Linked DNA regions of Homo sapiens: region 2 is linked to region 1. Evidence: fine-mapped expression QTL. Tissue or cell type: breast. Region 1 holds a variant in brackets; the other region holds the start of a gene. All regions are shown on one strand. Distances are between the middles of the regions.

Region 1 (8,184 bases):
CTGTAATAAAAGATATTTTTTTGTTTGTATTTCCAAGGTTAGCCTTTGTTTGGGGTTAGCCTTTGTTTGGATTTTTTCCCTGTTACTGTTAGCGCTTCTCTTGCTGTCTTTTGTATGTAGGCCTGCATTGTCCATTACAGTAGCCTCTAGCCACGTAAGGCACTTGGCTTATGAGTGCCACATGTTGAATTGATGATATTTGGATATATTGGCTTAAATGAAATGTACAATTAAAATTAATTTCACTTGTTTATTTTTACCTTTTTAATGTGGCTAATAGAACATATATGAAATTATATATTACTCGTATTTTATTTCTATTGGACAGTGCTGCACTAGACTAATTCACTGTTTGAGGGACTATCTGTCTCCAGCACAAAGCTTGGTATGTCATAAATGTTTCTTGTGACTGAATGAAAAAGAATTTGAAGTTAAAGCTGAGATACTTTTGGAAACATTTTGTAATTTTGGCTAATTTGTTTTGAATCAGGTTTAAGTGAAGATATTTTGGTAATCTTTGCTTTCTTATAATAACTAACTATGCTTTTTTTGAGATGTCATTTTAACCTTAATTCTTTGAAAGGTATTACTTTACTCTTGCATAGATTTTTTTTGTTAGTTTGTTTTGATCTTATCCCTATGTGTTTCTACTTTTTGGTCCTAATTTTATAAAAATATCCAGGTTGTAGATATATCTGTTAATACGTAAAATGTTGCTTTTTATCAGCAGATTTGACTTTATTTTTCATTTTTCTGCAGTTTTGGGAATATGATTTATAAGGAGAAGCGAGAATCTGTTAGTAAAGAAGATCTGGCAAGAGCTACTTTAGTTACTATCACCAATAACATTGGTTCTGTGGCACGAATGTGTGCTGTTAATGAGGTAAAAAAACAAAAAACACAAAACTTGAATTATCAAAAATGTGAATTGGAGTCCTATATACACCTAGCAGGGCTTCTTCACTTTCCCTAAGGAGGCCTCTGGGATTGAGATGTAACCCATTAAATGCCAAGACTCATTAGGTATATATGTTACGTATCCAGTTGCTATATTACTTTTAAAGAAAGTAGCAGATAATTCAAATTGAAATAGGAGAAATTTATTCAGAATTTTTTTTCAGAAAAACACAACCTAAATCCCTTGAGGATGTAAAAGAAAGTTCTAAGCATAAGACATTTTGAGATACTTTGTGAAAGCATTTTTTTTAGTCTTAATTTTGCATTTGGAAGGCAGCTATGCTCACCACTATACCACCAGTGCTTAATGTTGCATTTGATTAGTGAAATTCTTGGAAGTTTTCTTACTGCCCTCGGCTTCTTTACAGTGCTGCCTTGTTGCATATGGATCAAGCAGCATTGTACAGGGCTATGAAGGCATTGAGACCTGTTCTTCATGATATTTGAGTGGTGTTTATTGTTACAAGAAAAGTGTGAAAAGGATATACTGTTAGATTGACCATATAGTTGGGATTCTTTGTTTGGAAGAGAATATATATATTTAATTCTAGCTTCCTTATATAATAATAGATATATTTGCCCGTTTAATTTTTATAAATATCAAATACTTTAAATGGATTGGGAAGTACGCTTTTCGAAGGAACCCTTCATTTGTTCATTCATTCATTTATTCATTGAGTAAATATTTACTGATTACCAGATGCCAGACATCGTTCTGGGTATTTGGAACATATTAATGAAGAAAACAAAGATCTGGCTTTGTGGAGCTTGCATTCATTCTAGTGACATATTAAGTAAATTGTGTAGTGTGTATTAGGTGATAAGTGCTATTTTTTTAAAAAGAGACCATCAAACAGGATAAAGAGGATTGGGAATAGGGCAGAGAGTGGTAGAGGACAAATTGCTAAGTAATTGAGTGGTTAAAGGAAAGCTTTATTGAAAATGTGATTCTTAGGCAGAGGTTTGAAGGAGGTGAGGGGGAAACTGTGCATGTAGACATTTTGGGGAGAAAGCTTCCAGCAGAGAGAACAAATATGCAAATCCTCTGAATTATTCTGTATTTAAATCCAGAACTTGGTCTCATCAGTTTTTTAATAACTTAGAAACTTAAGTGTTAGTTGGTTGATGGAGTTACTAGTAGACCATGTTGGGAGCTGACAACAATTTGAGACCTTTATTCTTAGCCCTTTATGTCTAAATTTCCACTGACCAATTGAGTTAACAATAATTTAGGCCATGGTTTACAGTATCCCAACTTATGTACAAAGATTTCTACTCAAAAGTCAGTATAGTGTGAGAGTCGAAATAAGTTTTCTGGTGATTCAAACACCAGTTCCCCTTTGTAAGATTTCCTAATCATAGAGATAATCTAAGAAACCAAATTAGTGTGGAATCTTTGCAGAGAGAGAATGATTTGATGAATCAGGCAGGGGACGGAGAAAGAATGCTAGAATCCTAGGGGAATGCACATGCCAGTACCCCAGTCAGTATTACTCTCCAATTCTGTAGAATCCACAGTTGCATGTCATTGTTCAACATGCATTGCAATGTGTGGGCCAAGTTTGCTACTTATCAACTAAATGCATTTTATAGTACTTACCATGTTTTGATTTTTTTTTTTAATCACATCAGTAATGTGTCTCCAAATGACTTTGTAAGGGGGCTATTTATTGGCCATTTTCAAAAACAAATCTCACCTGAAATCATCTGCTAGAGTCTTTCTGGAACCTTTTTTTAAAAGTAGACTTTATTTTTTAGATCAGTTTCAGGTTCACGTAAAATTAAGTGGAAAGCTCAGTGAGTTCCCATATACCACCTTCCATACACACACAGCCCACTTCCATCCTCAGCATCCCATAGTAGAGTGATCATGTGTTACAGTCCATAACCCTGTGCACACATCATCATCACCCAAAGTCCATAATTTAGGGTTCTCTCTTGGTGTTACACATTTTGTGGATTTTGGATGATGTGTGCAGAACTAATTTTTAAATATTCAGGATTATACAGCTATATGCCAGGAATGTAGTAGGTGTTATACTAATAAAG[C/G]GTAGTTGTGTTTTTTTGCATTTTAAAATAAATTTTAAATAAATATTTAGAAACCTTTTATATTGTAAAATCTATTATTTTTACAAGTTTTTTCTTTGTTCTTTTCTTTTAGAAAATAAACAGAGTTGTCTTTGTTGGAAACTTTTTACGTGTCAATACCCTCTCAATGAAACTTTTGGCATATGCACTGGATTACTGGTCAAAAGGTCAACTAAAAGCATTGTTTCTAGAACATGAGGTATGGTAGGAAAATGTTTTTTGTGAATTTTAATAGCATGTTTTTTAAGAGACAGGGTCTTGCTCTGTCACTCAGGCTTGAGTTTAGTGGCACAATGATGGCTTACTGCAGCCTCTTCCTCCTGGGCTCATCAATCCTCCCACCTCAGCCTCCCAAGTAGCTGGGACCACAGGTATGCACCACTGTGCCCAGAAAATTTATTTTTATTAATATTTTTTGTGGAGACAGGATCACTCTTTGTTGCCCAGGCTAGTCTGGAACTCCTGGCCTCAAGCAATCCTTTATAGGTGTGAGCCACCATGCCCAGCCTTAAGTAGTAGAATATTGGTTCCTTCGCTTCAGTTTCAGTTGTGGGGAAGAGAATTACAATAACCTGTTAGGCACCCCCAGATTTTTTTGTATTCATTTACTACATGCAGTTAAGTTCTGATCTGAGCAATTATCAGTCCACATAATGTTTTGGATTAACTTAACTTGAATCATTTTGTGATCAAAGTCAAATGGCTGTATCATTACAAATTAGTAACAGAGATTCAAATTATTCTGCTCTTAAAAGCTTCCATGTCTTGGCCGGGTGCGGTGGCTCATGCCTGTAATCCCAGCACTTTGGGAGGCCAAGGCGGACGGATCACGAGGTCAGGAGATCAAGACCATCCTGGCTAACAACGGTGAAACCCCGTCTCTACTAAAAATACAAAAAAAAATTAGCCGGGCGAGGTGGCGGGCGCCTGTAATCCCAGCGACTCGGGAGGCTGAGGCAGGAGAATGGTGTGAACCCCAGGGGGCGGAGCCTGCAGTGAGTCGAGATGGCGCCACTGCACTCCAGCCACTCCAGCCTGGGTGATAGCGAGACTGTCTAAAAAAAAAAAAAAAAAAAAGCTTCCATGTCTCATTGTCACTGCTCACACAATACAAATCAGAATGGTGTGCCCTTGTGCAATTCCACATGGCATGCAGTGAGAGTGTCAGGCACAGCCACAGGAAGTTAGTTTGTTTTATTAAGTAAAGGGGAGAGGGTGCAGAATTGCTGTTACAGTCCTGGAAGCTTTAGTGTCTAAAGGCCACACTTTTAGAATACGTATTTCAGTGTGAGCCTATAGTCCCAGCTATTCAAGAGGCTGAGATGGGAGGACCATGTGAGCCCAGGAATTCAAGGCCAGCCTGGGCAAAATAGTGAGACCATGTCTCTAAAAATAATAATAATAAATAAAAATACATATTTCAAAGGTGTGTAGACATCAAGAATACAGATTCAGAAAATTTTTTATAATAGCTAACAACGCAGAAATTGGTAGGTTTCCAAATATTATTAAACAAATAGATTGTGCATAGTTGTGTGTTCTCAAGTGGTTAATATTATATGCTAACTTAAAAGCTGTACTACATAACAGTTATTTTTAAATTACACAGGGTTACTTTGGAGCAGTTGGTGCACTTCTTGGGCTGCCAAATTTCAGCTAAAGCATCAGGTCTCTCTCTCTGCTAATAAATGTCATCCAAGAGGAACTAAAACCAGAGGCATTATTACTGCATTGTTTGTCACTGGGAACCAAAGGATAAAAGAGTAGCATAAGCTGCTGAATGTTGCCATATTAAAGGAGAGAACTTGGTAACGTGAAGTATTTCTCATTGAAATGCTTTCCCTTTTGTATATAGCCAGTGTTAAATCCTTAAATGCAATACAGCCTCTGATTATTGAGCTTCCTCTTAAAAAGATTTTTTTATTTTATGTAGCCAACATTGCAGTACTGTATGCTCAAACACAAATCTTAAAGTATCGGAACTGTTTAGCTTATGAAAATAATCGACTCTGAATATTTGTTACAAGTCTGTTTTATGTGTTTTGATTACTAGTGAGCAGAAAATAACATACCCTGTATTCAAAATTACTGAAATGGCAATCAAAGATGATCATTTTTATGTGATTTTAGAAATGTTAAGGCAATACTACTAATTATTGTAGGTTTTTTTAACGTATCACCCAAAGCATGTATGTGATCTTTCCCCATTAGTATCTTTTTCTCAAATGCCATAATTAACTGAAATACTATTATTAAATTTTCATGAGAATTCTAAAATGAATCCTGGGAAATGCACGTTTGGTGATGTTGCACTTTCTGTATTTTACAGGAATTAGTCAATACATGTTGAAATGTTTAACATTTTAAGATTGGAGGCTTAATTACTGGGAGTCTGTCTAATGAAGTCCTGGGACTATTGTAATGGAATATGATTTGAGTTCACTGTGCTCTTTTTGTTTGTTTGTTTTGGTCATATATACATTCAGAACTTTTATTTTAAAACAACCACAATAACATTAATAATAGAAAATTCATCTGTAAATATTCACAGTCTAGTCACTGAAAAATGGGAAAACCTCTACCATGCCTTATTATTACCCTTTGCTGTTTGAGGAGCCAGAAATAGAGGTGCAGTTAGAGGACGGTCACTTTTTCCAACAAAACCCACTCCATAGCCATGTGGATTTTTATCCAAAGGCTCAACAACCAGAGGGAATGGTGAGACCTGATAACTAAAATACTGTTATTGGCAAGGGTTTGAAATGTGTAAGAACCTAGGAGGGAAAGGAAGATTGAGCAACATAGGAAAAGGGGAAGAGAGGCTGAGTGTCACCAAGGTCCAAACTCCATTTATAAAAATACTGCAAAACCAGGAGTTGATGGTAGAAATGCATATGATCCATGGCAGGAGTAAATCTCTCCACCTCCTCTAACTCTCTGAAAACTCTAGAGTTGGAGCAAGTCTTCCATTTGCTTCTTATCCCCTTAAAAGAATGCCTTCCACTTCCCAACAGCCCCCATCAAGGGACCCCAAGAGGCCACCATGCTCTTATCTCGCACTTTCTTTCCTATTCCCCTTGCCTGAATCTGGAGTGGGGTTGAGCCCTCTGCCTTCAACCTTAAGATTTAGGAAGTTCTTTCCCCAACTGTCTAACTTGGAAAGGTAGATGAGTCTGAATTTTGAAGTAACGAATGCAAATTCCACTCAGCAGAGGCAATGTTATTTATGTACATAGGGATAGTGGAATGAGTTTTAATAGATTCTGTCCAAAAGGGGTTTGTTCCTCTTATTTCCTCTATGTAGGAAGTTGTGTCTTAGGCAACTTTATCAGTATCAATGGAAAAATGATAGGCACTACAATGAAATGGCAGGATGCCAATATGAGATATTTCAGGAATAATAAGAAATACAGTTTGTTTGTATAAAATAAACTATCTCAAGAAAGTTTTCAACGACAGTGATAGTGTTCATTTGTAAGAGAGAGTTCTAGAACTTCGATGTCCAGTGCAGTAGCCACTACCCATATGTAGCTGTTGAGCATTTGAAATATGGTTAGTCCAAATTGAGATGTGCTCTAAAGGACAATAAAAGGTTAAATATCTCCTAATTTTTTGTATTGATTACATGTTGAAATGTTAACATTGGAAATATTGGGTTAAAGAAAAATACACAATTAAAATGAATCTTGGCCAGGCGCAGTGGCTCACGCCTCTAATCCCAGCACTTTGAGAGGCCAGGGTGGGCAGGTCACCTGAGGTCAGGAGTTCGAGACCAGCCTGGCCAGTGTGGCAAAACCCTGCCTACTAAAAATACAAAAATTAGCCAGGCATGGTGGTGCGCACCTGTAGTCCCAGCTACTTGGGAGGCTGAGGCAGGAGAATTGCTTGAACCCAGGAGGAGGAGGCTGCAGTGAGCTGAGATTGTGCCACTGCACTCCAGCCTGGGCGACAGAGTGAGACTCTGTCTCAAAAAAAAGAATCATCTGTTTCCAATTATTTTTAAATGTGCTTACTAGAAAAGATAAAATCACACATGGTTTACATTTTATTTCTATTAAGACAGCACCGTTAAGAACATAGAGCTTTGAGGAATTGTGGTATTAGAACCAAATCTATTTACCACAGTGAGCTTACAGGGAGTTACTCGAGATCTTAATAAAAAATTATAATCTTTGGCAGCCTTCATTATGATTTTGTGTTCTTATTATTCCAGTACCTCTAGATTACATATGGGAAAAGCTAAAGAGCCACAGTGGTGAGATGGTTGCTCACTCTAGCAGGTAATTTCAGTTTGAAAGGATAAAATATATGAATCATAGTTCACATTAACCAAAGTACAGTGATGAAATAACTTAGACTCTGACCATTCCATTTTTTCTTAAAGATTGCCCTAAATCTATAGATGCTAATACAGTATTTGCCACAGGTATAAAACTTGTAGTTACTGTCATTCAATTAAGATTCTTATCTGTACAGATATACAAATCAGAAACTTTTAAAATAAATTGAACTAATGGAATTTTGGCTCCAATATTTAGTCACTACAATGGAAATATTAAAGCAAGGAACATGAAGTCATTGTAGGGTTTTAAAATGGCTACTGACTGACATGAATTCAGAGTTTCAAACAGTCTAAATTCTAAAAACTTAACTTTACACGCTTTTCCTCCTAAATAACCACTCTAATAATTCATACATTCATATCTTCAGGTAAAGAAAACTGAATTTTAAACAATTGAGGCTGGGTGCAGTGGCTCATGCCTGTAATCGAATATAAGGACTTGAGTATAAAATTTGAAAACTACATGGGGAAATGTCTTTATCATGCATCTCTTGATAGTCTACTGAAAACTATTAAGTAAACCTGCGGTCTGTAAACAAAAAAACCCATAGTGATACTTACCTTGTGTAATGTAAACAATTTTTTAAGCTCTTTAAAGTACATCTAGATTTACTGGTAATGTATAGAAGTCAATTTTATCCCCAAGCATTTCTACTTCCTAAACCATTAGCAAGAGTCTCAAAACAACTTCACTAAACTATTGGACCTCCAGTGTTAACTTGCCAACATAAAAATCTGAAAAACTTTGTAATCACTATCAAAAATACAAAAGAGAGAATAAATTCCCAGGTAAAAGG
Region 2 (8,184 bases), 150 kb before region 1:
ACTACGTATGCATATTCTAAAACTTTCAAAAGTAGAATTGTTAAAGGATATAATTTAAAAAAAAAAACAGAATTTCTAGTATTTTCGTCCCAGTCACAACTGGGATGAAAGTCTAGCCAAGTGGTTTGAAGCTGCTCCCTAGGTTGCTGGGTTTCAGAACCTTCTCTGCAGAGTATATCCTCCAGTGGACCCTTCAACAGGGCAAGGGAACCAGATAATCAGATGGCCAGTGATCCAGGAAGCTCCCTAAAGGAGCTAGGATGGGGTTGAGTTGAAGAGTGAGTCTTACTTGCGTAGGTGAGAGCCACGCCTCAGAAGTGGAAGGGGCTGGGATGGGAGTTGAAACTTCCACAGGATTGGAAGTACACTCTGGAGATATTAACTTTGCCACAGTGGAGACGACTACTCCGCTGGCCCCATATTGGATACCTCCAGTCTAGCCAAAGTCTGAAAATGCATTTCCAGAGAGCCAAGGATATGAAGGCTACTGGCCAAGCTGGGCAGGGGGCCCTGACTTCCTGTTCTGCCTCCTAGGGCGCTGGGAACCAACCCACTCCACTGTGACTGCAGTCTTCGGTGGCTGTCGGAGTGGGTGAAGGCGGGGTACAAGGAGCCTGGCATCGCCCGCTGCAGTAGCCCTGAGCCCATGGCTGACAGGCTCCTGCTCACCACCCCAACCCACCGCTTCCAGTGCAAAGGTAGGTGACGCCCACACCCCACCCTCCCCTGCCCCTCTTGGGGTCTGCTGTGTTCCCAGCAACCTGTCAGAGCAGGGTATCTCAACAGATGTGGCTTCAGAAACCTTCACCCTGTCTCTTCCATGGGTCCCACAAAGAGGCTCAGATGCTGACGCTGATGTGAACCCTCATCTAATGGGCCAAGTGTCATTCTCTCCAAGTTCCCTGCTGGCATTGCCACACATCTCCTCACTGACTTCTTTCTGTACATGTCTTTCCATAGTGGAGAATATCTTTTTTTTTTTTTCATCTTTTGTAGAGACAAGGTCTCACTATGTTGCACAGGCTGGTCTCAAACTCCTGATCTCCAACGATCCTCCTGTTTTGGCCCCCCAAAATGCTGGGATTACAGGCATAAGCCACTGCACCTGGCCTTGAGAAAAATCTTCAACCTGCATTTTTTAATCCAACATTATTAAAACATAAGCATTTTCCCATTTTATCCAGCAAACTTTTGTACATGTGATTTTTTTATTGATCATATTATAACAACAAACTACTACTGAGTTTGTATGCAACAGGAATGATGGTAAGCACTGTCTCATGTATTTTCTTCTCATTCTTCATGTAACAACTTATTTAATTCTCTAATACCTCTATGTGATCAACTTTTAATATTATCCTCATTTTTAAAAATGAGAAAATTGAGGCTTACCAGGCTTCCAGGTCCATCTGATTCCAGAATGCGCAGTCTTTATCACCAAGCCATAATACTCCACTGCCACTTAATCCATTTCTGGTTTTGAATCTTTCGAGTATTTCCATTTTTTTGTCTTACCATTGACACATAAAGATCTTTCTCTGTTTGAAATCATGTCCTCAGATAAGACTCAGAGAATAGAAATTACTGAATCAAAGTACATTATTATTTTTAAGGTCTTCACACATTTTGCCAAATTGATTTTCAAAAAGGGTTATAACCAATTTACATTCCCAGTAGCATCCTTTGGTTGCATTTTTCATTAGACTCTCATTATTTTCTCTTATTTTCTCATTGCTAATTCAATAGGTTAAAAAAAAAAAACTCCTTTTATTTTGTCTTTGATTATTGGGGAACCTGAATTTTTCATCAAAAACGTACTTTTCATTTGTATACACAGTTGTTTGATAATCTCTTTTGCTCATCTCTGAGAGGCTTAATACTTATTTTGATATATAGATACACTTTAATTACCCTCTCAAACTTTAGTGTGTCCTACACTTCTGCTGCAAGCAGAAAAACATTCCATTGGCTTAAAGCTAATTTTAATTTTCCTCCTCCTGCTTCTAAGCTATCTGATCTGATACTAAAGAGGCTCACCTAGGCCAAGAACAGTATAGGTCTCAATCTTGGCTGCACATTTGGACATCATACAGGAGCTTTTAAAATTACTGAAGCCTGGCTCCACCCTCTAGGTTTAGATTAAATTGGTCTGGGGTACAACCTGGGTGTGGGGACTTTTAAAAGCACTGCAGCCAGGGTCCGGGCACGGTGGCTCATGCCTCTAATCCCAGTACTTTGGGAGGCTGAGGCGGGCAGATCACTTGAGGTCAGGAGTTCAAGACCAGTCTGCCCAACAAGGGGAAACCCCATCTCTACTAAAAATACAAAAATTAGCCAGGTGTGGTGGCGCATGCTTGTAATCCCAGCTACTTGGGAGGCTGAGGCAGAACTGCTTGAATCCAGGAGGTGGAGGTTGCTGTGAGCCGAAATTGCACCACCACACTCCAGCCTGGGCAACAGAGTGAGACTCCATCTCAAAAAAAAAAAAAAACAAACAGAAAACAACACTGTAGCTGGTAGTGTAAGGCAGCTAAGTCATCTGGGTTTTGTCTGGGCCATTCTTGGTTTTAGCACTGAAAGCTCTGTGTCCTGCAAACCCCCTCAGCCCCAAGCAAACCAAGACAGATAGTCTTCCTCTTCTAATGTGAAGTCGGGTTGAGCCCCTGGTACCAGCTCTCAATCAGGCCATTCTTTTTACTCATCCACAAACAGTCACTCACTGAAGTTCATCTCAGCCCATCTCCAAGTTGATAACTGTTAACCCCAAGGTCATTTATAGTCCTGACACTAAATATGGCCTGTTTATCCAGGGCTCATTGTCAAAGCTGGCTGCAGCAGCAGGACACAGCCCCCTTTGCAAAGCTCTGGGAAGGACCCTGACCTCCCTCCAGTGCTCGCAGCTAAAGCAAGCACACGGCTGAAACGGTCACAGACGTAACATGTACCTGAGCAGTTTTCTGTCCATTGTCAGCATCATCGCTGTGTCCTCTGGGGCCATCCATTTCTTTCTTCCAAGGTTTTCCAGGGGGGACTTCCTCTGTGTGCCTTTGGCCCAAGCACTGTGCCCTGCTTAGCCTGGCACAGACTATTCCATGGGGAGGGGTGTTTGTGGGTAGAAAAATGGGAGGTCCGAATGGAGCCTGGGCCCAGAGCTTCCTGGAATATGAAAAGATACACAGGGGGTTTCTAATTATGGTGCATTGTTTGCAGATTAGCACCAAAATCGGATCAGGCTAATTACAGTAATTGATTTGACTGCAGAAGTGTTTCTGAATGATGTCCCACTGTGATTTTTCCTCACTGGACAGTGGCTGAATTAATGGGACTCTAGCTGGACTGGATGTGCTGGCTGAGGAGAGCCAGCTGCCATCTGGGCATGGAGTTGGGAAGGGGCTGGCGCTGGCTGAGGGAGGGCCCAGAGCAGAGGGGAAGGGAGGTATGGCAGTGAGCGCACTCAGGACCTGCCATCAGTACTCTGGTTTTGCTGCCCAGGGCCAGTGGACATCAACATTGTGGCCAAATGCAATGCCTGCCTCTCCAGCCCGTGCAAGAATAACGGGACATGCACCCAGGACCCTGTGGAGCTGTACCGCTGTGCCTGCCCCTACAGCTACAAGGTATGCTGGAGGCCCTGCCCCCCCGTGTTCATGCCTCAGGCTCCTCCTTCAGCCCTGGCCCTAGAGAGGGGCACCATGCCCTGCGTACCCTCCCTTCTCCAAGGGACAGCCTGGATGAGTCCATCGCACAGGTCACCACTCCAAAGCAGCATTTGCCAGTAACACTGTTCTCTGAACTAGCGGGAGCTGCCAGTCAGAGAGGCCCCCATATGGTCTTGACAAGGATGTCCAGAGAGAAAGAGGAAATGTAACATTTGTATTTTCTTTGTGAAACATGGAGAAATTAAGTCTCAGAGAAAAAGTGTTTCCAAGTAGAGGCATCCCTTGAGCCCACTCTCCCAATTTCCCTTCTAAAGGGATTTCCAGAACCTCCACCCCACCATGCCCCTGCCAAACCCCACCCTCAGAGCAACCAGCCTTGAAAGTGCTGGTTCCAGCTTGATGTAAATATAGGGATTGGGGATTGAAAGGCCTAGGGGCTGCAAACTCACCCAAAAGGTTGATCGGCTAAGATCAGCCAGCAAGAGGATGAGATCCCAGTTCTCCCCTCTGTCCTCCCAGACTACCTCCAAGACAGTCCTTCCTTCTTTCACCCAGAGCACGGTGTCATGCCCCTCTGCTGACCCCTGTGGATATCGACCATGTGCCTCTCACCAGCACCTACCGAGTACAGACTGTGCCAAGTACTGTGCTTGGCATTTTACTCACCTGTTCAAACACCCCCAGCAAACCTAAGAAGGCCTCATTATTCCCTTTTTACGGATATGGAGACTGGGCCTCAGACTGTCAAGAGTTCAACTCAATGTCCGAAGCTTGTAAGCAGTAGAGCTGTGATTAAGACCCTGGGCTTTGTGATTCCAGAACCCAATCCTTTTCCCCTGGAGGGTTTCCTGGATAGCTGAGCCCTTCCTTGGGCTTCACTGGAATCAGCAAAGCTGTGGCTCCATCCTCTTCTGCAGGGCCCGCCCAGCTTCCAGCCTTCCCAGGGCACCCATCCAAAGGCACTGGGCAAGCGCAGAGTTTCAGGACAGCCCCACAGCCTGTCTAATGCACACATCTGATGCAGGTGGAGTGAGAGTGAGCTGGCATCCCCAGGTCTCTGCCCCCAGTGGGATTGTGTGTGCGTAGTGACAGGCTTAGAGGCAGCCTCATTCTGGGGAATGGGACTACCTGATGTATTTCTAGACGATGGCTGTGCTTCTAGCAGATGGTGTCAGAGTGCCACCTATGGGCCTGGGACAAGAGAGCCAAAGGATTCCCTTTGAAGCCAGCCACCTCCAAAGTCTTAAACTTACCACTGAGTCCCAGACCCATACACCGTCATTTCATAAGCTGATTATAAAAATCAGAGAAGAGACTAAATGCATAAGGTCCAGATGAGTGCCTGGCCTTTACTGATGATTCAAAAGAGAACTATACTATGTATGGAATTGAGAATGTTATAAATTCAGTCACAGGGCACCCACACACACAAAAAAAATAATAGGAGGGGAGAATAGAGATTAACAGCAGACATACTCAGGATGTGTGGATCCTCTCAAACTCCCTTGTATGGATTCAGCAGAGAAAATTCAGACTGTGCAATTACACAGAGAAGCAGGTGTGGATTCCAGCTTTGTCATTTACTAGCTGTGTAGCCATTGCTAGTAATTTCATCTGTCTTCCCAGCTGCAAACTAGGACCTGTCTCATAGGTTTGCCGTAAGAATCAAATGTACAGTAATGTACGCAATACACTAGGATGATACCTGGCATTCAGTGAGCACTCAATAAGCTGGCATACTGCTGCCTTTCACCTTTACCCTTGCATGGTGGTCCCTCATACCTGGGTGTGGAATAGGCCATCAGTAACAGGTGGTATGTTGCTAGTTTGATCCAGGATTATCAGTCTATGGCACTGTGAACTGCCAAGAAACTTCAGTCATTCTCCTAGAACTGTGACTGCATTTGTAACATTCTCAATTCCATACATAGTATAGTTCTCTTTTGAATCATCAATAAAGGCCAGGCACTCATCTGGAGCTTATGCATTTATTTTCTTCTCTGATTTTTATAATCAGCTTATGAGATGGGTAGTATCATCCCCATTCTAAAGATAAGGTAAACTGTTTCACATTCTGATTCTTGCTTCCTTCTCTTTAAAACTGGCCTGAGTCTGAAAGTAGTAGAGCTGGGTTTGAAGTCCAGGCTTCTTCCAGCTACACTTGACTGTACTATGAAGCATGACCTGACCGTCAGTGTCAGAGCAAAGAGAGTATCTTCAGAGCTACTGCAGGATAAGGCCACTTGTTTGAACTTTGTTCTCAAGATTCTGAACATCATGTCAATTTTAGAAGAATGTGAACAGAGATTTTGATCTTGAGGAAAGTGTTGAGCCCAGGCAGGTCTAGGGTGCATGATGTTGATGGTGATGGTGAAGATGATGATGGTGAAGGTGATGATGGTGATGGTATCGGTGATGATGACAAAGGTGACAATGGTGATGGTGTTGATGATGGTAATGGTGCTAATGGTACAGATGGTGGTGATGATGATGATAACTATGATAATAACAGTAACATAAGAGCCAGCATTTATTGAGTATCTACTATGTACTGACAGTAGACTAAATAAGGTACATGTATTATCTTGCATACTCCTCATCAGAGCCCTAGAATACAGTTCCTAAAATGACCCTCATTTTACAGTTGAAGAAACTGAGCATGGTAGGTAAGGGAGTTGGGATTCAAAGCTCAGAACCAACTGACTCTAGAAGCTGTGCTCCTGGCCACTGCACTCACTGCCTGTTGGCAAGTGCAGTGATTGCAGGGGCTAAGGTGGAAGATCCCTGACTATTTAGGACCTGTCTGAATTTCCAGGTTAGAGACAAGTAGAGTGTAGCCATGGGAAGAACACCAAGCAGGACCCTCTGGAGCCTGTGCCTATGTGATGCATGACCTTGGACAGAACTCGCTCTTCTCCTCACCTCAGTTTCCTCAGCTGTAAAATGGAGGAGGTTGAACCCAAGGGATCCTTTAACTGAGGGTTGCATCAAATTCTCTGTGCTATGTCCCTGCTTTCCTTCTTGCCGGGGTTAGAGCCCGCCCAAACAGAGCGACTAAGATGGTAGTTCTGCATGAGTGGCTAACAGAAATCCCCAGATACCCACAAAACCAAGCTCAAAGTTCAGGCATTTACCTCTTTCCAGGTATCTCCATTTTCCCATTGACTAGCTGAGTGACCTTGGGAAGCCACAATATTATAAAAAAGCACAGGAATCACTGTGTAACATTTGGTAGCAGCTACTCTTAATCTACTATAATGCCAGGCCTTTGTGAAGCAGTTTAAACACATTATCTCTTGTAGTACTCTTAATCACCTTGTGAAATAAGTTTTATTATCGTCTTTTAATAGATGAAACAACTAAGGTTCAGAAAGATGAAATAATTTACCCAAGCTCTCACACTTAGGAAGTGCATGAGCTACAACCAGAGCTCAGCTATCTCTTGCAACAAAGTCTCTACACTCACAACCACTCCAAGTCAGATTCTCCCTAAGCCTCACTTTCCCCACCTGTAACTGAGAATACTCATACTCATGTGCAGGGCTGTTGGAAGGATGAAAAGGGGCTGTGTGTGTACTTTGCCTACCTCAGTGCCAGGATTCAGTAGATACTTCACAAAGGGTCAGTATTTTGCCATTATGTTAAGATTTGGGGAAAAAATATATCTGTTGGCTGATTCTTTTTCAGCCATTTAGTTTCAGGCACATATGTTCAATGTCTCAGAACAGTGCTTCTCAAACTTTTGTGTGCATAAGAATCACTGGAGAGCTTATTAAAATGCAAGTTCTAGTTCATTAGATCCGAGGTCAGGCCTGAGAGTGTGCATTTTTTTTTTTTAATCAGCTCCCAGGACATGCCAGTGCCACTAGTCCAAGGAGCACGCTTTGAGAAGTAAGGACTTAGCAGCATTCCTCGTGCGATCTCAGAAAGAGGTTTCCAATGAGGGCAGCTGTTCCCAGTGTCTTTTTTTTTTTTTTTTTTTTTTTTTTGGAGACAGAGTCTCACTCCGTTGCCAGGCTGGAGTGCAGTGGCATAATCTCGGCTCACTGCAACCTCTGCTTCCTGGGTTCAAGCAATTCTCCTGCCTCAGACTCCTGAGTAGCTGGGATGCCCACCACCACGCCCAGCTAATTTTTGTATTTTTAGTAGATACAGGGTTTCACCATGTTGGCCAGGATGTTCTCAATCTCTTGACCTTGTGATCCGCCCACGCTGGCCTCCCAAAGTGCTGGGATTATAGGCGTGAGGCACTGCGCCCAGCCCCCAGTGTCTTTTAAAGGTTGATTCCCAACCTTTTTGGCACCAGGGACCAGTTTCATGGAAGACAGTTTTTCCACGGAACTAGGGTGGTGGGCATGGTCTCAGGATGAAACTGTACCACCTCAGATCATCAGGTATTAGTTAGATTCTCATAAGGAGCGTGCAACCTAGATCCCTCGCATGCACAGTTCACAGTAGGGTGTGTGCTCCTATGAGAATCTAACGCCACGGCTGACCTGAAAGGAGGCGGAGCTCAGGTGGTAAT

Which allele goes with the higher level. Alleles are on the strand shown, and positions count from the first base shown. SD is a standard deviation of normalised expression in the study named.
With allele G in place of C in region 1, the expression in breast of the gene that starts at base 4,666 in region 2 is lower (small effect, 0.26 SD a copy in GTEx).

What was found. PIP is the estimated chance that this variant, and not a neighbour inherited with it, causes the effect. A credible set is the group of variants that fine-mapping cannot tell apart.
Region 2: it holds the start of SLIT3-AS2, and the variant in region 1 is the best candidate, but not a certain one, in a credible set for the expression of SLIT3-AS2 in breast (GTEx, PIP 0.70).

What each region holds. Positions count from the first base shown.
Region 1 is chr5:168,554,092-168,562,275 of GRCh38, reverse strand. PANK3 (pantothenate kinase 3) reads left to right here. Exons shown (of 7, transcript NM_024594.4): 5 at 760-883; 6 at 3,119-3,244; 7 at 4,655-8,184. The coding sequence ends at 4,705. MIR103A1 (microRNA 103a-1) reads left to right here and starts at 1,303; the gene lies at 1,303-1,380. MIR103B1 (microRNA 103b-1) reads right to left here and starts at 1,372; the gene lies at 1,311-1,372. The variant C/G (reference allele first, on the strand shown) is at 3,007.
Region 2 is chr5:168,703,409-168,711,592 of GRCh38, reverse strand. It overlaps SLIT3-AS2 (SLIT3 antisense RNA 2), which reads right to left and starts at 4,666. Exons shown (of 7, transcript NR_130737.1): 1 at 4,326-4,666; 2 at 2,946-3,156; 3 at 1,393-1,538. It overlaps SLIT3 (slit guidance ligand 3), which reads left to right. Exons shown (of 36, transcript NM_003062.4): 25 at 535-698; 26 at 3,493-3,617.